Homo sapiens: one gene and its partners. The protein of the gene in region 1 interacts with the protein of each later gene in a pairwise test. Each region holds a gene or a part of one and is shown in the gene's direction. Other genes may lie near its edges. The genes, in order: CCSER2, CRADD, KIFAP3 and OFD1.

The links.
Region 2: the proteins of CCSER2 (region 1) and CRADD interact in a two-hybrid assay, tested with the Homo sapiens proteins (one large-scale study listed by BioGRID and IntAct).
Region 3: the proteins of CCSER2 (region 1) and KIFAP3 interact in a two-hybrid assay, tested with the Homo sapiens proteins (one large-scale study listed by BioGRID).
Region 4: the proteins of CCSER2 (region 1) and OFD1 interact in a two-hybrid assay, tested with the Homo sapiens proteins (one large-scale study listed by BioGRID and IntAct).

Annotation. Positions count from the first base shown.
Region 1 is NC_000010.11:84,326,763-84,331,755, forward strand, and holds the start of CCSER2 (serine-rich coiled-coil domain-containing protein 2), read left to right. Parts: upstream 1-1,826; 5' UTR 1,827-2,046; intron 2,047-4,993. UniProt on the Homo sapiens protein: Microtubule-binding protein which might play a role in microtubule bundling.
Region 2 is NC_000012.12:93,679,759-93,684,110, forward strand, and holds part of CRADD (death domain-containing protein CRADD), read left to right. Parts: intron 1-4,352. UniProt on the Homo sapiens protein: Adapter protein that associates with PIDD1 and the caspase CASP2 to form the PIDDosome, a complex that activates CASP2 and triggers apoptosis.
Region 3 is NC_000001.11:170,064,364-170,068,715, reverse strand, and holds part of KIFAP3 (kinesin-associated protein 3), read left to right. Parts: exon of another isoform or gene 1-1,212; intron 1,213-4,352. UniProt on the Homo sapiens protein: Involved in tethering the chromosomes to the spindle pole and in chromosome movement. Binds to the tail domain of the KIF3A/KIF3B heterodimer to form a heterotrimeric KIF3 complex and may regulate the membrane binding of this complex.
Region 4 is NC_000023.11:13,733,319-13,738,308, forward strand, and holds the start of OFD1 (centriole and centriolar satellite protein OFD1), read left to right. Parts: upstream 1-1,429; 5' UTR 1,430-1,753; coding exon 1,754-1,765; intron 1,766-1,929; coding exon 1,930-2,028; intron 2,029-3,159; coding exon 3,160-3,360; intron 3,361-4,990. Other genes in the region: TRAPPC2 (trafficking protein particle complex subunit 2), read right to left, coding at 732-814. UniProt on the Homo sapiens protein: Component of the centrioles controlling mother and daughter centrioles length. Recruits to the centriole IFT88 and centriole distal appendage-specific proteins including CEP164. Involved in the biogenesis of the cilium, a centriole-associated function.

The DNA of each region.
Region 1 (4,993 bases):
GGCTTAAGTAATCTTACTGCCTCAGCCTTCTGAATAGCTGGAACTACAGGCATATGCCACTAAGCCTGGTTAATTTCTTTTTTTTTTAATAGACTAGGTCTCTATGTTGCCCAGGCTGATCTTGAACTCCTAGGCTCAAGTGATCCTCCCGCCTCAGCCTCTCAAAGTGTTGAGGTTACAGTCGTGAGCCACCACAACTGGCCTGGGCATTTTATTTTATTTTATTTTATTTTTGAGATGGAGTCTCACTCTGCCGCCCAGGCTGGAGTGCAGTGGCATGATCTCATCTCACCGCAACCTCCACCTCCCAGGTTCAAGCAATTCTCCTGCGTCAGCCTCCTAAGTAGCTGGGATTACAGGAATGCGCCACCACGCCCGGCTAATTTGTTGGTATTTTTAGTAGAGACGGGATTTCACCATATTGGCCAGCCTGGTCTTGAACTCCTGACCTTGTGATCCTCCCACCTTGGCCTCCCAAAGTGCTGGGGTTACAGGCTTGAGCCATCGCCTCCGGCCTGGTGTTTGCTTTTCTAATCTCACTTAATCCAAAGAGAGATTGCACAGCATTTAGACCTAGTCTTTGTCAATATTTTAAGCACACATTATTGTCCAATACATTAAATATCTTAGGGATTGATATTTAAAAGACATTATTTTCTAAATATGAAAGTGTATTATTAAATGAAGTGTGGTTATACAAATCAGGCATTCCGTCTGCTTTTTCCATTTGAGTATCATTGATCTGGAGACAGGAAAGAACTGGATATTTTTCAAGCAGTTCTCCTGAAATGTTATTACAACCGAGCTGTTGGGGCCGACGAGGATTTCAGAGAACTGCAAGTCTACAACCAGGTAAGGGCAACTCCAGAGCTTTAAACAGCCGGCCAGGCCCGGAAGCCTTCCAGGCTGAGGACTCTCAGCAGCAGGACTGGCCGCGTCGAGGAAAAACAAGAGGGGAAGAGATGGCCTCTGGGGGATGGAAGCCCCAAAGGGAAGAAAGACCTGGTTTCTGGCAAAGAAACCACATTGGCCAGGAGCTGTGGCTCACGCCTGTAATCCCAACACTTTGGGAGGCCAAGGTGGGAGGATTGCTTGAGCCCAGGAGTTTGAGACTAGCCTGTAAGACCACTTCCCCCAACTCTAAAAAGAAAAAATAAAAATTAGCCGGGTATTTGGGTCAACTTGTGATAGTTTACTTTGACTAGTGTGGTCTTAGTTGTAATTATTTCGGAGGCTTGGTGATACACGCCTGAGGCGAGAGGATCGCTTAAGCCCAGGAGGCTGCAAGTGAGCTGTGATAGCGCCACCGAACTCCAACCTGGGTGACAGGGCGAGACTCTGTTTCAAAAAAAAAAAAAAAAAGGGAAAACCAGATCAGCACTTGGGGTGCCCCTTCCCCTCAGCTTTAGCAAGATCCTGTGTTTTGATGCGGTAGGCAGGTGCGTGGTTCAGTCATGCCCAATGCTCAGACCACTCCTCACTTTTCACATCCAGGAGGAGGAGCTGTCAGGTTTGACCGCACTCAAGCAGCAAATGTAGTCCAGGGGACGGCTAGAGGTGAGGTCAGCCGCAAGACTGGCGTCACTGCGTGGGCCCAGCAAAAACCTGAGTCAGGAGGCGGCCAGGCAAGGTCAGTGGAGGGGGCGGGGCCCGAAGCGGAGGCGGAGCTTGGGAAAGCCTGGCGTGAGGGCGGGGCGGGGCCAGAGGTGGGCTGAGGCCGGATCAGGCGGTGGGGGCGGTCCCCGTAGCCCCGTGAGGCTCGCGCCTGCGCACGGGCCCGCGGCGGGGCGGGACTGCGCGTGCGCGGTGCGCCGGCCCTGGAGGGCGGAGTCCGGGCGGGCGCCGGCCGAGGGAGGGGGCGCGGCGGCTTTGGAGTCCGGCGCTCCCTCAGGCCGCGGACGCGATGCTGGTTGCTGCGGCTCGGGCGGCGGGGCTGGCGGGGATGTGACGGGCGGCCCTTCGTCTCACCTTCCGTCCTCGGGCCCGCAGGTCGCAGGGCGGCCTGCAGCTGGGCCGCGGCCGAGGAGGCAGCGCGACCTCCGCACGGTGAGATCCGGGCTCAGGGCCAGAGCCGGGGCCGGGGTCGCGGCGGGCGCCGGGGGCAGCCCAAGACCAGGCACGCAGTCCGGGGCGGGGCGGAGGCCCGAACTCCCGGGCTGAGGCGGTGTCGCCCTCCCGTACCCGGCCTCCAGGGTGAGCCTCTCTAGCCCCTCGCGAGCCGCCGGACGCGGGGCGGGCGCGGACCCGGGAGGCCGGAGGGCGCCCTCCCTGCGGCTGTGACAGCGCGGGGCCTCGGGCCGCGGGCGCCGCCGCCTTTCAGGAGAAATCAGGGCGAGGCTGAGGCACTCTGATTTCGGAGCCTGGTTGCGTGTGAGGGTGGATAGGGAAAGTACCGGGGCTCCCCGAATGAGTTCGATTTTTTTTTTCTTTCAATTACTGGGCTAAATGAAAGACACACCCTAAAACACATCCTGAGGTGAAACTTTGGTGGGGCACACCGTTGCCGTAGGTTCAGATCTTCTCTCTTGTCTTTAGACATGTATTTTCATACATTTTTAAATAATGCACCTACTTTCTTGATAAAGTAAAAGGAGGAATGAAGGGACTCCTTTGTGGTGGTCCTTGGTGGCGAAGCTTGTTTCCATTTCAGTAATTGCATATTCATCTGTGTGGGCTCCCCGACCAATGAGGCTGGCTGCTCCCAGACAAGGCCTTAGCGGAGTGGAAATGACTGACGCAGGGACTCTGGTCTCAGATTAGAGTGTTGGTAGCTCACTCCTGTAAGAGAGAAATTGAGCTTTAAGCTTTTTAAAATAGCCATATGAAAAGCATTCCTTTTCTCCTGAGCATTAAAATATGACGGAACCTATTCATTTGGCCAGTTGTTTTTTTTAAAGCATCATCTTTTAGACTAGAGACTTTAGAGATGGCAGCTGCTCTTTAACCAAAAGGAACTTAAGATGCTCTCCTGCAAAAGATGGGTTCAAAACATGTCTTATCCGTCATCCATATGTGATAAAAATGTAAATATTCCTGAGTGTTTGCCTGAAATCAGTCTTCTTCCTCTTGGACTTTATTACTGTTTCTCTTAATTTATGAAAGCTTGTTACTGTTATTTTTTGTTTTCGTTTGTGTTCTAAACAACATTGGCTTCAAATAATCTTCAGGTTAAAAATGCACACTTTGTTGAACCCTTTAGCCATAATTCATACTGTCGTACTTCAGCATAAGCCATAGTTAAGAAAGCACTAGAAGCCATCCTGAAAGCAAGCCGAAAGTCTCTATTAAGAATTCTGTAAAAATTCTACCTTTCCACATTCAGACCTGCATTTTTTGTTGCTTTGACTCAACTCCTTTGACTATTTTGGAGGAAGGGACTTTGAATCCATATTTACAAGTCCTTCAGTGACTCTCCATAGTCTATATCGATAAAATTCAAAGTCCTTCATGATTAGCGGTATTTGTCTCCATTCTAGTGTCATCTTCTACCATTATGCCTGCCCTCTCTATATAAGACTGTTGCAGTTCTCTGAAGATGACATCTTCCTCTGTGGTTTTTCAGTGTTCTTTGTTGAGAATTCTCTACCTAGTAAACAACTTGCCCTTGAAGACCTTACGAAAGTAGCACTTCTGAGGCTTGTCTAGACATTTCATCCCTCTTGTCTTAACTGATTCGTACACTCTCCAGTTAGTATTTGTCAACTGGTAGTTAATGATTTGTTTATGTGTCTGTCTCCACCAGGTTTTGGGGTTTCTTTTGTGTTTTTTGAGACAGAGTCTTGCACTGTGGCCTGGGCTGGAGTGCAATGGCCTCATCTCGGCTCACTGCAACTTCTGCTTCCTGGGTTCATGCGATTCTCTTGCCTCAGCCTCCTGAGTAGCTGGAATTATAGGCACACACCACCACACCTGGCTAATTTTTTTTTAGTAGAGACGGGTTTCAGTATGTTGGCCAGACTGGTCTCAAACTCCTGACCTCGTGATCCGCCCACCTCGGCCTCCCAAAGTGCTGGGATTGTAGGCTGGTTAGGAATGAAACCCCAGTTATGTTAAAAAAAATCCATTTTATGATACAGGAATAAAAAGGGCATGACCAATAAAGATTGCTGCTTCATTGGTCCTACAACTTTATTTTGAGGCGCAAAGTCACGCAGGTAGAAAGGGATGGCGGGGATTACAGTCCAGGTCTTTTGACCATCTGTGTATTTCACTTTTGCCCCCAGTCTCCTAATTCTAAATCTTAATTGTTTTACAATTTGAATGGGAGTTGTGAGCGACTTGGATGTGTTCTGAAAAAAGGGTCAATAGAATATTGAACTTGAAAGAATTAACAGATTATTTGGTTCAACTTTAAAAATTTTACGGTTAAACAACTCAGCCTAAAAAGACAACTTGTTTGAGATTGCTTAGGCTCACCTACATCTCATATCTCCTGACCTCATCATTGTGTGTTTTTCACTACTCCATGGTGCTTTGGGGTGAAATGAAGGAGCTGCCAGTTTTTCAGAGGGAGTGCAAATCTGCTTGCACTTTCTCCCTCTTTGAATACATGGCTGCCACTCCTAGGGACTTAGAACCCTTGTGGCTGAGAAACATGATAATTCATTTGGGGATATGGGAGAAACCTAACCTTCACTATTCCTCTCAGCCAGATAGTTTTAACTTCAGTGCTTGGGGCGCTCTCTCCAGATGCCCCATAACAAGTGGCTTCTGATCACCATATGGACATCTCACATACAGTTAAGTTTTGATGGTACAATGAGATTTTAATATAAGAAGGTTGCAGCTGGCTAATAGCATGGCTAAAATTACTTGTGTGGCTTGTCTGTGAGAGGAGCCTATCTTACTCCTATGTGATAGGATTTTGGGGGAAAAAATTGATGATTGTGGCTGTCTCTAAAAAGTTGAAATGTGTACTTAGTGGTGTGGGCCTGACCAATTCCAAAAGGCTTTTTATCTTACAAACAATGGTCAAAGAAATTTTAAAAATCAA
Region 2 (4,352 bases), on another chromosome or scaffold:
TTCGGCCTACTGACAACTGATTTGTGAGGTGCCAGAGCTACCAGCTGGAAAAGGTCAGATTCATGGAGGAGGAGACAGCCTCTAGGAAGGCATGCCCTGCACCTGTCCCCTGGGCTGTCCTGTGTGGCCAAAGGGGATTATTTTGAAGGCTGACTTAGTTTGTTTTTAAAGGTTATTCGTTTAAAGTGTCCTTTTTAGTTTAGCTTTGTTCAGACACTGGAGTATTTAATTTTGCAAAGAGCAATAGTTTGGGGAGGGTCTCAGTTTAATTTGAAGGAGAATTGGAAGCTGGAGAAGAGAGAAACAGTTCTGGTTCTGTTAGCCTGGCTTGTAGCAGGAAGAAGATGTGATATGGAAACACTTGCTTTTTCTTAACCTCCCTTGACTCTGTTTCACAAAGATAGAGGGGCAGAGAACTGAACTGGCAAAAATTAAAAATTGAAAAAAAAAAGTAATTGAAAGTTGGCTTGCAAATTTTTAACAAAGTTAGAGAATCAAGGTTCTCTGGGGTTTCTGATAAGAGTGATAGAACTATTCCGGTTCAGTGGGCCCCAGACTTCGTGGTTGCTATTTTTTAAATACTGGTTAAAAAAAATGAATACTGATAATAAGACCACTTTTACTATTTTTGCTCCATGGACCTCATATTTTGACATATGTCTGAATACCTGATCAGCATGACATAGCCAGCTAACTTTAGGAAGACCTGGTAAGATCCCAGTGGAAAAAGCAAAAGTATTTTCATTCCTAGTCTGGGCTCGTTACAGTTAAATGTATCTTTAGGCTTTTTGAAATATTAGACATAGCTGGCTTTTGAGGACCACTGGAATTCACTGCTTGGATTGTCCTTACAAAATTAAATACTCCACATGTCTGAACAAAATGTATCTAGATGTTTTTATGACTTTATTGAAAGCAGAATAGATAACATAGAGTTGGAGAAATGTTAAAAAATTATTGGTGTTTTCCTGATATTTGACTTAGAGGTTTCTGCTGGCATCATATAGTTGGAAACAACAAAACAGGTGAACTGAAAGCCTTTCACTATCAAAATACTGAATTTAATTTTATGGTCATTTTGGGTGATACAGATCATGCTGTTGTATGTCATTCGTAGAGGTATAATACCATTTTTTTTTTTTTGAGACGGAGTTTCACTCTTGTTGCCCAGGCTGGAGTGCAATGGCGCGATCTCGGCTCTCTGCAACCTCTGCCTCCCGGGTTTAAGCAATTCTTCTGCCTCAGCCTCCCGAGTAGCTGGGATTACAGGCATGTGCCACCATGCTCGGCTAATTTTGTATTTTTAGTAGAGATGGGGTTTCTCCATGTTGGTCAGGCTGGTCTTAAACTCCCGACCTCAGGTGATCCGCCCACCTCGGCCTCCCAAAGTGCTGGGATTACAGGCGTGAGCCACCATGCTCGGCCATAACCCCATTATTTCTTCAGATTCATTCAGAGAGTTAGAAAGAATTAAGGCATTTTTTACAAAATGATGAGAGTTACAGAGAAGCTGAGGAAAAATAGCTTTTTAAAAAAGCAAACAGAATGAAGCAGTACATAATGGGAAAAAAATTGAGCATATCTGTGTAGAAGTTTAGAAAAATAAGGTTTTTCTCAAGATTTGTTAATTCTGTAGAAGGTTGGCTCTGGAACAAATTCGTACAGTCATCTTAATTGTTTTACTTTTTACTGAGTAACACTGCTATTGAAAAAAACATTCTGAAGTGAGGGTTTGATTTATATATGTCTTTGAATACCTTCCACGGTGACAATCACATAAACTCTTTTAAAAAAGACTTGTATTTATTAAATATTGACTATTTTAAATAATATTACAAAATATAAGTAAGATATGGAGAATAATGGTACAGCGAACACCCGTCTCCTCATCACTCAGTTTAAGAAAAATAATATTACGATTGCCTTTAAAAACCCCGGGCACTCCTTCCCAATCTTGTCTCATTCCCAACCCCCACGCAGTGAAAAGCCCTGAATTGGGGGTTTATCATTCATTCACTTCTTCACTTTATAGTTTCCTATCTCCTAAAAATCACTTTTAAAATCTTCATATGTTTTTGAAAATCCTGTATACCGTAAGTTCTAGAGGTGTGTGTGTGTGTATATGTATATATGTATATAGAGAGAGATATATATGTTTTTTGTGTGTGTGGGAAGGAAAGGGTGGAAGTAATGGAAGAAATTATGCATTTAAACTTGATAGTTAACACCTTCTCTTGTTTCAGAACTTAAAATATTTTTTACATGTTTAAAGTAATTTAATTGGTGGCAATATTTTAATTCTAAAATTAAATTGGGATTTACTGAATTGGAAACCTAGGTTTTGTTATTTTGTAAATCCTGGGAAGAGTATCAGAGTTGAAATCCCTTCAATTTAACGTCCCTATAAAAAAGAAATCCAGAACCTACTGCCTAAGACCTCGGTGCTTCTCCAGTGTTGTAATTGAGTAATTTTAGTAAGATTTAAAATAGTCCACTTAAATTTTTGTAAAGATATCTTTGAGTTTTGAGGATCTAGACTATAGGAGAATGTGTGTACACATTAACCTCTTAATGTATGTACACATTAAACTCTTCCTACCTTTTCCTCATTTTGATCATACTTATTAATTAATTTGTATGGATTCAGTAGTCTCTTGGGAGGCCTTGAGAACAAATGGGAAGGAATGGCCTTCTTTTTTAGCCAAGACGTTGATCCTTCTCTAAGAATGAACTGATTTTATCTTATTAAGGTTTTCTTGTGTTGGTCTTCCCAGAGATGCTTGGTTTCCCCTTTATTGGTTTGTTGTTTTAATTTTCGTTGTTTCACTTGTAAATTTTGAGCTGTCTCAGAGGCTTTATTTTGGTGATTGTTCCTGGTTAGTTGCTTTTTACTTATGTGCTGGATGTAATTTGTTTAGAGAATTGAGCTGTATCTTGTTCTTCTCTACTCTTCTGAACGCCACCCCCATCAAATCTCAAAACATACAAAAACACCCTAAACCTTTTGATTCTCTCAGAATCTGCCTCTGTGACTAGTCTCCCAATCTCTGTTAGGAAAAAAAAAAAGGTTTAAGTTGTTAAAGTTGTTAATGGATCATTGGTTTTGTGTTTTTCTCACCCTGTAAGGACTCTTACCTTTTAAAAGAGGAATTCTGGTGATAAAATGACTTAATCCACCTTGGCACCGTGGAGAGAACACTTCATGGTTTGTCTCTCTGGCCAAGGTCACATACTAGACATTAGATCAGCTGGAAATCCTCTCTGGGCTCCTGTCAGGTCATTTAGGAGATAGGGACAGTGCCGTGTCTGGGTGAAGGCAGCCTGTGCCTGCCTGCCTGGCTTCTCACTGCTCATGGGGCCTGTCGGCACTGACAGGCTCCCTCCAGTGCCTGAGCTAATCTGGATCTGGAAAGGAGGTTGATGGCAGCCCAGCCTCCCCATCTGGTGGGACTCAGCGTAAATCACGGTGGGAGTGACTCCTGGGCCACAGGACCCCCTCCCTGTTCCACTGTGTTGGCCCTGGCTGTGGGTCTGGGTGTCTGCCATGATTCTCTGCCTTTTGCCCCAGTCTTCCTTTAAGCTTGGGAGTGTTTTTGTTTTTCTCTCCTCCGTTGGTTTGATTCATGCTTTATGTATTCTTAGCCATGGCGAGAGTGAAGAACAGAGCTCTGGGAACACAGCTCGGTGCCTCCGGCATCAGCATTGGATGTCTCAACTCTTGAGCCTGTTGGAATGGCTGTCCCTAAGCTGACACTTGCTTCAACCTTCTCTGGGCTTGATCTTGTCCTCCCCATAGACTCTGTGCCCTGGACTCCCTGGCTGCTCTTACAACAGCAGTGCGCAGGACTGGCTAGTCCATTTCCCCTCTACCTGTGGGCTCAAGGGCTCTGCCTGCCCCTTGTGGCGCCAGCCTTGAGTGACAACACAGAACCACACCTGCCGCCCTCCTGAGATACATTCTAGCTCTGAGTTGCATACTTGGATGCATCTAAAGTCACTGAGCTCTTAATGGCAGATATTTTAGATATTGTGATGGGTTTATTAGAGAGGTTTCTAGCTTGGGATTCTTTTCATAGGTTCCTCCAATCATACCACGTAATTGACCTTGCTCTGCATGTAAGTTCAGTGTTGGTCTCAGTGTATCTAGCTTGCAGTCTATCCATGTGCTTCCACTGTGACTGAGTAGTGTTTGCCTAGTGGCGTCCTGTGTGCTAGAGTGAGAACAGTGGGTCAGTATCCATAGCAAGACCCTTCCCTCGGTAAAGGGAGAGTCTGCAGAGGGCCCAGGTTTCTGTGTATACCCAGCCCGATTTTCATATACTTCCTAAGGACCTACTGAATGCCAGGTACTG
Region 3 (4,352 bases), on another chromosome or scaffold:
TTCTTGGATGTGTAAGTTTGTCTTTGGTCTAATTTGGGAAGTTTTTGACTGTTTTTTCTCCCAGTATTCTCTATGTTTCTTTCTTCCTCTCCTTTCATACCCTCATTATGCATATGTTGGTATACTAGATGGTGTTCCATAAGTCTCTTAGGTTCTGTTTATTTTTCTTCATTCTGTTTTCTTTCTGTGCCTCAAAATGGACAGTTTCATTTGACATATCTTCAAGTTTGCTGATTCTTTTCTCTCTCTGCTCAGATCTGCTGTTAAAAACCCTGTAGTGATTTTTTTATTTCAGTTATTGTACTTTTCAGATCTAGTGTTTTTGTTTGGATCCTTATGATAATATATTTTTAAACTATTTATGTGTTGAGACATTGTGTTTCTCCTTTTTCTTAGTTATTTGCACTGGTTTCTTTTTGCTCTTTGGACATATTTAAGACAGTTGATTTAAAGTCTTTGATAAGTCCAGTGTTTGTGCTGTAGCATGGACAGTTTCTGTTAATTTTTTTTATTGTGAGAATGAGAATGAGTTTCTTGTTTCTTTGCATGTTTCATATTTTGTTTTGTTGAAAACTGGGTATTTTGAATATTATGGTATCCAAAGGAAAAAAAGAAAAGAAAAAAATACTCTTCAGATCTTTGTAGGTTGACTCAGTGTTTGGATATGGCTTCAACACTTAGCCAGGCAATTTACAATTTTACCTTAGCCTTCATTTGCTGCTTGCACAGAGCCTGAAGACCAGCCAGAGGTAAAAGCTTATGATCTTCCCAGGTTTTTTCTGGGTATGTATTCTGCCCTGAGCATGCTCATGGATTTCTAGATTTCTCTTTATATGCAATAGCTTTTCAAAGCATCTATTCCCCCAAAATGTCTGACTCCCTGGACTTTCCTCTTGGGCTTTCAGCTTGTGTTTTGTTTGACCCAGCTATTACTATTTATCCCAGGGGCCAGCAGCTTGTATGCTTGGCTTTCACTGATTTCAGTGACTGCATAGCTGCACTATCCTGATAAGAGTTTAAAATTAGTCAAAACAAAGGAAAGCCCCTTGCAGCTGACCTCAAAGGAAACTTCAGTCAGTTGCAAAACAATCAGACAAAATTCCTTGGGAGCAAGGTCCACTTGACTCCTCTAGAACCAAGTATTAACAGTGGGAACGTGGGCTGCCATCTTGAAGACTGCCACTGTGCTTGAGAGTGGGGTGGATGTCTAGGGTAAGTGAAAAGACCATAATGATCGCCTACCTTGTTTCTGTAACCTTTCTTCTGATTAAACATTCACTTGGTTGCTGTAAACCTTTGACTGTCTTCCAGAGTTCTGATGAGGTTGATTGTGATAGGTTTTTTTTGCCAAGTTTTTAGTGCTTCTGGGGAGTGCCAGCCTCTAGAGGTCCCTACTCTGCCGTTTTCACTGATGTCACTTAGCCATTATCTTTTCATATATTGCTCTGTACCCATTCTCTCTCACCTTTTTTCTGGGACTTCAAGTACATATGCTAGACCTACTCAGTATGCATTGCTGAATTATACTTTTGCTTGTGTTTTACATCTTTTTGTCTCTATGTTTTATTCTGGGTGTTTTCTTCTGACTTATATTTTATGCCATAAATTATCTCCTTACCCGTATCTAATCTGCTATTAAACCTATTTATTTATTATTATTCTTAATTTTGGTTATTGTATTTTTAATTCTAGAAATTTAAAAAAATTATCTAGTTTTTTCTGAAGATGACTATTCTTTGAGTATCATATATAGGAATATAAATGTATAAATAATCATTTGAGGCTCAGGATGATGTTCTCTTTTTCCAGAGAAGATTATATTTTATTTATGTTAGTAAGGATTACTGAAAATTTAGGGTCACCTTAATTAGTTCTCAGAGATTCAATTACATTAAACTGGGCTTTTTAGTCTTGTTGGTGACCGATCTGCATCTGTTTCACAGTTACTCCTAGGAGGTAGTCCTCCTGTTTCAAGCTTAAAGCTTGGAGCTTTACCAGAGCCACTGTTGTTTGGTGCACTCTAGAATCCAGTTTTTGTGTCTCTAGCCTCATGTGATTATTAAAAGATTCTCAACCTCTCAGCCCTCTCTTTTCAGTTAGCAGATACCTCTAGGGAAAAGTAGCCTCAAATTCAAGATTTACCTCTCTTCATTTTCTTTTTCTCCTGGATCTTGGCACTGTAATTTTTTGTGCCTTTTTAGTTCTCTTATGGCCTCAAACAGATACACACATACGTGTTTTTGCCCCCAGCTTTTAAGATTTTCTTAGAAGGTGCATTGGTTTGAATTACCTTAATCCTCTGTTTCTCTATTACCAAGTCTAATGTTAGTAATAGAAATATAAAACTTGTTTTGGTTTTACCAATATGAAAAGCATCAGGAATTATAAATATTTGAGTACATATAAGAGATTATTTCCCTCTTAATTTTTTAAAAATACATATGACTTGAAAGCAAAAATTATGAAATTTTTGTGTGAGTTTATAAGGTATGTACACATAATGCATATGACAGCTATAACATAAAGAATGGGGGGGGGGGTGTAGGCAATAGACCTGCAATTTGTGAAGTAGCACAGCATTAATTCTTAAATACCTTGTGAAAAAAAAAAGGTAACTAAAACATTGTTTTTCCTAAAGCAACCACCAAAAACAGTTTTTAAAAGTATAGTGAAAACATCTACACAAAATGGAATTTAAAAAATAATAATTCACAAGGCTGTTAGGAAAATAATCAAAGTATAGTTGGGCCAAACAGGAAATAAAAATGAAGTGATAGATCTGAATCTAAGTATGTCAGTCATTGCATTAAATGATCCAAAACAATAATGTCCAATAGAACTTTCTTCCCTGATGGAAATGACTTACAGCTGCATCATCAAATACATAGCCACTGGCTGTATGGCTAATGAACACTTTGAACGTGGTTAGTACAGCTAAGGAATTGCATTTTTAATTATTTTTAAAATGTAATGTATTTAAATTTAATTTTAAATAGACCCATGTAGCTAGTGACTATTGTATCAGACAGCATAGGTTTTAATGTTCCAATGGAAAGGCAGAGATTACCAATATTTCTTTTTTTTTTTTTTTTTTTTTTTTTTGAGGTGGAGTCTTGCTCTGTCGCCCAGGCTGGAGGGCAGTGGCATGATCTTGGCTCACTGCAAGCTCCGCCTCCCGGGTTCACGCCATTCTCCTGCCTCAGCCTCCCAAGTAGCTGGGACTACAGGTGCCCGCCACCATGCCCAGCTAATTTTTTGTATTTTTTAGTAGAGACAGGGTTTCACCATGTTAGCCAGGATGGTCTCGATCTCCTGACCTCATGATCCACCCACCTCGGCTTCCCAAAATGCTGGGATTACAGGCGTGAGCCACTGCGCCCGGCCACCAATATTTCTTTTATAAAGAAAAAAGAAAAGCAAGACCCAACTATCTGTCATCCCCAAAAAATATACTTTTAAGTATGGACATGGTAAGTTAATGGTAAATGGGTGCAATCAAACAGTAAGCATAAGAATGCTAAAATGACCATATTAATGTCAGATAAAATAGGCTTTAAGAAAACGTATACTGTAAAAACTACAGAGGAGTATTTCATACTGATAAAATCTGCTACATCCAGACAGTTTTAAAGTCAAATTCTAACAAAATTTTTGGGAAACAGATGCTTCCAATTATGTACAACTCTTCCAAGAAGTCTAGAAAAAAAAGGATACTCCTCAACTAATTTATATTAAGATTTTAGAATAATCTCCATATGAAAGTCAGAAAAAGGACATTAGAAAGGAAAATTGCAGGCTGAATGAGCAAGGATGCAAATTTAATCTAACAGTGCTTTAAGACAGCATTAACAAGTTGTGCTTATTCTAAGAATATGAGTATGGTTTTATGTATTTAATGAATTTGATGTAGTATATTTATGAATTAAAGAAGAACAATACATGATCCTCCAATGGATGCAGAAAAACATTTGATGACATTCACTACACATTCATGATTTAAGGAAAAAACTAAAGCCATAAATAAAAGGGAATTATGATATAAACATATTAAATGAGGAAACTAGCCAGGTGTGTTGGCTCATGCCTGTCATCCCAGCACTTTGGGAGGCTGAGGCTGGTGGATCGCTTGAGCCCAGGAGTTCAAGACTAGCCTGGGCAATATGTTGAAACCCCATCTCTATAAAAAATACAAAACTTAGCTGGGCATGGTGGTGCATGCCTGTAGTCCCAGCTACTTGGAAGGTGGAGGTGGGAGGATTGCCTGAGCCTGGGAGGCAAGGCTGCAGTGAGCTGTGATCACACCACTGCACTTCAGCCTAGGTGACAAGAGTGAGACCCTTTCTCAAAAAATA
Region 4 (4,990 bases), on another chromosome or scaffold:
CCCTATTGTTCCACCTCTGCTAGCGTTGACTCGTTTACTTATTTTTTCTCCCAAATTCACTTTGACTATATCGAGTTCAGAGCTACTATCATTTCTCTCTTCATGCCTGGAATGTTCTCCTTTATTCTGTCTGCAACCACTACCCATCCTTTAAAATCCAACTAAGCCTCTCCTCCTTTTCCATTGTTTCCAACAAAAACTTACAGGTTCTCCACCTCCTATGAAGTCCTGTCACTCTTACTGCCTCTTAAATACTTTAAGTTTTTCACAGCCAGAGATCAAAACTCATCGTACTCATCTTCAATGCTGTACACAAAGCTGACATCCAATTCTGTCCTCACAGGACTTAGATACCATATAAGGCTTATATTCCCAGCACACAACTCTGGAGTCAGGCTAGATTCCTCACTGCTCCCAAGAAGGTCGTGGCTTTTTTTTTTCTTTTAATGATTCCTTTGCTCATTTTTCCCCTTCCTGTGATGTTCTCCTTTTTGCTCACCACCCGAATCCTACCCATCAAGGCCCCGATAAAGACACACTTTTTCCACAGAGATGATCTGGATCACTTCCATCTTCAACCACCTCCCCTTTAAACTCTTTATCCAGTCTACAATGTATCTTAGTTCTTGTTCAATTCTCTGGCTGTAACATTTTCATTATCGCTTCTGAGAGGTTTGGTTCCTTTCCTTTCTAATTACATTTAAGCATCATGAGGACTGGCTCACCTTTACCTCACAGCACACAATGGTTGGTACTCTAAAACGTTTAGCTCTGTGGATCTCAACCCGGAGCGATCTTGCTTCCAAGAGGACATCTGGCAATATCTGGAGACATCTTTGGTTGTCACACTTGGGGGAGAAGGTGATACTGACAAAATAGAGAGCAAGGATACAGCTAAACCTACAATGCACAGGACAGCCTCCCAAAACAAAGAATCTTCCGGCTCCAAAAGGCAACAGTGCAGCCGTTAAGAAACCCTGGGTTAGCTGAATGACCCAGTGAACCGCGAAACCACAGCCCCCGAGAGGGCGGACGTCTGCAGGTGGAAGGGCTGCGCGGATGAGCCAGCGGAGGGCTGGCAGGTCCGGCCCGGCCACCCCGGGGAGGGGTGGAGGTACAGGACCAACATCCGCGTCACGCAGGGGCTACGAAGTCCTCCAGGGACTCAAAACACCCGCCCCCCGCCGCACTTGCTCCATTCCCTACCTGCAGTGGGAGGCCGACAACGGAAACGCAATGTCAGTTTCCGCGGAAGAGACCCGCGCCCCGAACCTGTAGCCAGAACGCCGAAGCAGTTCTCGCGATACCCTGGGATGTGCTCTCGCGATACGTAGGCGGAGCTTCCGGCCGGTGCTGGGCAACCAAGCTCATGCGCCGTAGCTCTTCAGCTCGGGAAGGCTATATTTAGCAGGTTTCCGGAAGTTGCCGGACTGGCTGTGAGGCGGTCCTGCCTCGCTGCCTTCAGTCCCTAGTGTCTGGGTCCCCGCCCTCCAGCCGCCTTTGAGTCGTGCCTGGGTCCTCGCCCTTGCCTCAGAACCGCGAAGAAAGGAAGCTCGCGTGTTTGCTAGAAAACCTAGTTGGGAGTGCGAGGCAGAGAACGTTCAGCACCTTTGTTCCTCCCGAACCCTCGGGACAGAGGCAGGGTTCTGAGGGCAGGGATTCCCCCTCGTCTTGGCCCCACCGCCCGGGCTGGGCACTAAACTCGGGCCGCGGCGGGGCGAGCGAGGCGGGCTCCGGAGGGAGCTGACGCCTGATGATGGCGCAGGTAGACACACCTGCCCCTTCTCGGGCGGAAATAAAGTCTTGTTTTGTGTTCGTTAAACTTTCGCCGCTAGGCCTCTTATGGCTTCCCCGGAGGCCACTGGTCTGTTTTCAGACGTTCACGTTCCCTCTGCCCCGCAGGTAACCTATAACCATTTTGTCTTTTAGTCCAACATGTTTACCGTGGCTGATGTGTTGAGTCAAGATGAACTGCGCAAAAAGCTATACCAGACGTTTAAGGATCGGGGTATACTGGATACACTCAAGGTATCGGATTTAGGCGTATCTGTGTCAGCTTTTACAAGTGTAACCTGTAACAGGTAGTTCAAATTCAATCAAGGTTTAGGTTTTAATAATCGTATGATACATAGATTGTATTGGTGAATTACATTTTTATATTCCCGAATAACTCTGTATCCTGAAACATTACAGTCTCTTGAAAATGTTTGAGAAAATGTTGAGTTTGAGTCGTCTTAAAGGAGCATATTCAAATAATTAATTGAACTGACAATAAGATAGGAGAAGGAAATATTTGTATAATGAACACAGTAAGATTAGGCTTGTTTTATAAATATGGCTTATAGGTTCCTAAATTAATAAGTGGGTTTGTAATACATTTGGATGAAGGACATTGACACCATATAGAAAATACTAGTGTACTGCTTAATAATAGTTTGGGAAATGAAAAATTTTATCTTTAAACTATATTGAAATGTATGAATGTTTAGTTTGGGCAGAAAATACCTATTAGTATGCTTTATATTTGGATTAACAGCCAGGAGTAGGATTAGCTCAACGTGTTTTCATTGAAATATGCATTTCAAAAGCATATTTTACGTTTAAAATATGTAGCTATATCCTGTGTATGTATCCTTTTTTAATTTAAATTATATGGTGAGCATTTCCCTGTTTCCTTAAAAGTTTTTTGAAATCTTCATTTTCAGTGGCAACAGGCTTATCTTTGGATATTTTTGTAATGTATATAGCAGTCCCCTGTTGTTGAATATTTTGGTTATATTCTCCAACAGTCCACAGAGGTGTGATGAAGTGGCAGAATTTTTTCCTATACTTAATATCCCAATCGTAAGCTGCTGAAATGGGCTTCTAGGGAAGTGAAGTTATGAGTCTGCAAGTGGATCTGGCTAACCACCCGTTTCATTTGGAAGCTGGGGAAAGAAAGCTTTTTCTAGAACCCACTGGACTGCTTGTCTCACGGGGTAAGACAAAGTGTGCAGGGGAAGGTTTCTAACTTCTGGCCATGGATCTAGAACCATTATGGAAATAGAAGGAAGGTTTCCAATGAATGTAGCTCATCTGTGTATATCTCTAATGAAACAGTCCTGCTGAAATTTCTTTCCCTTGTGTTTCTTTTTTATTTTTGTTTTTATTTTATGCTAGACACAACTTCGAAACCAGCTAATTCATGAGTTGATGCACCCTGTATTGAGTGGAGAACTGCAGCCTCGGTCCATTTCAGTAGAAGGGAGCTCCCTCTTAATAGGCGCCTCTAACTCTTTAGTGGCAGATCACTTACAAAGATGTGGCTATGAATATTCACTTTCTGTTTTCTTTCCAGAAAGTGGTTTGGCAAAAGAAAAGGTAAAGTCTTTCCTTTTCTGTTTCTGAAGTTTTTATTAACAGGTTCTTCCTCTGCTGACAGTAAAGTGCTGTATGATAGCTAAGTGCTCCTCGACTAGGTCCATTTCTGTTTCCTCTTTGAATTCACATTGTACCTGCACATAATATATTTGTTATATAACAAGTGGGTACTAAATTTGAAATTAATTTCTTGGCGTCTCATTTAGTCTCACATAAAACAGTGATGTATAGAATCTCTAAATGTTTCAGACCTATAATTGATCTATCTATCCTCTATCTTGTCTAATAAGACTCTGCCAATCTGCTGAATGTCTGCTGTAAGCTTGGCACTGTGATAGGCACACTGCAGATGTTTTGTGTGTTACGGATGAGGAACCAGACTCTGGAGAGGTGAATCAATTTGCCCAACATCAAGTAACTTTTAAGTGACAATGCAGGGTGGTAAATCTAGATCTCTAACATGAGCTCTTTTTTTCCTGCACTAGTTTCTTCAGATGTTTCTCTTTGTAATTAGATAAGTGAGAAATACGTAATTTAAAAAATCTGTAAAGTTCTCAAATATTAAAAACACTTGTTTTTTTTTTTTACTACTTTTCTAATTATTTTAACTATATTTCTTCACCATTACTGTTGAACATTAGTACTACTTTATTATTTTAAAGGCAGATACAGCAGACTTTCCCTGTGGATATGTGCGTGTTTTTTTTTTTTTAATAGACTTTATTTTTTCAGAGCAGTTTTGGGTTCACAGCAAAGTTAAGTGGGAAGTACAGAGAATTCCCATATACCTGCTGCCCCTACACACTCATAGCCTCCCCCACTGTCAACATCTTGCATCAAGGTGGTACATTTGCTACAATCTATAAGCCTACCCTGACATGTCATTATCACCCAGAGGCCATAGTTTACAGTGAAGGTTGCAGTGAGCCGAGATCATGCCACTGCACTCCAGCCTGGGTGACAGAGCGAGACTGTCTCAAAAATAAAATAAATTTCACTCTTGGTGGTGTTCATATGTTTTTACTTTCTTTGTGTTTTCTGTAATTATCCAAAAGTTTCATATTCCAAAGTTTTAGTGACACAAGCTTAGTACAGTATTTGAATGAAAACTTAAATAATTTGCATTTCTTCATAAGCAACCAAATTTTATTTGTCAGCATTAGGAATTTATTTATTAATTTATGTTTTTGAGACAGAGTCTTGCTCTGTTACCCAGTCTGGAGTGCAATGGCGCAGTCTTGGCTCACTGCAACCTCTGCCTCCTGTGTTCAAGCAATTCTCCTGCCTCAGCCTCCCAAGTAGCTGGGATTACAGGTGCCCACCACTACACCTGGCTAACTTTTTTATTTTTAGTAGAGAGGAGGTTTCACCATGTTGGCCAGGCTGGTCTCGAATCCTGACCCCAGGTGATCTGCCCACCTCAATCTCCCAAAGAGCTGGGATAACAAGCATGAGCCCTCGTGTCTGGCCTGGAATTCATTTTTGATACATCATTCTCTAACTTTCTAATCACTTTATACTTTTACTTATTGTGTAATAGTCAATAATACAATTATATAGCAGGAATTAATCCTATTCATACAACTTAACGGTTTCTACTAATGTAAAATGCCCATGCAGAATATTTACT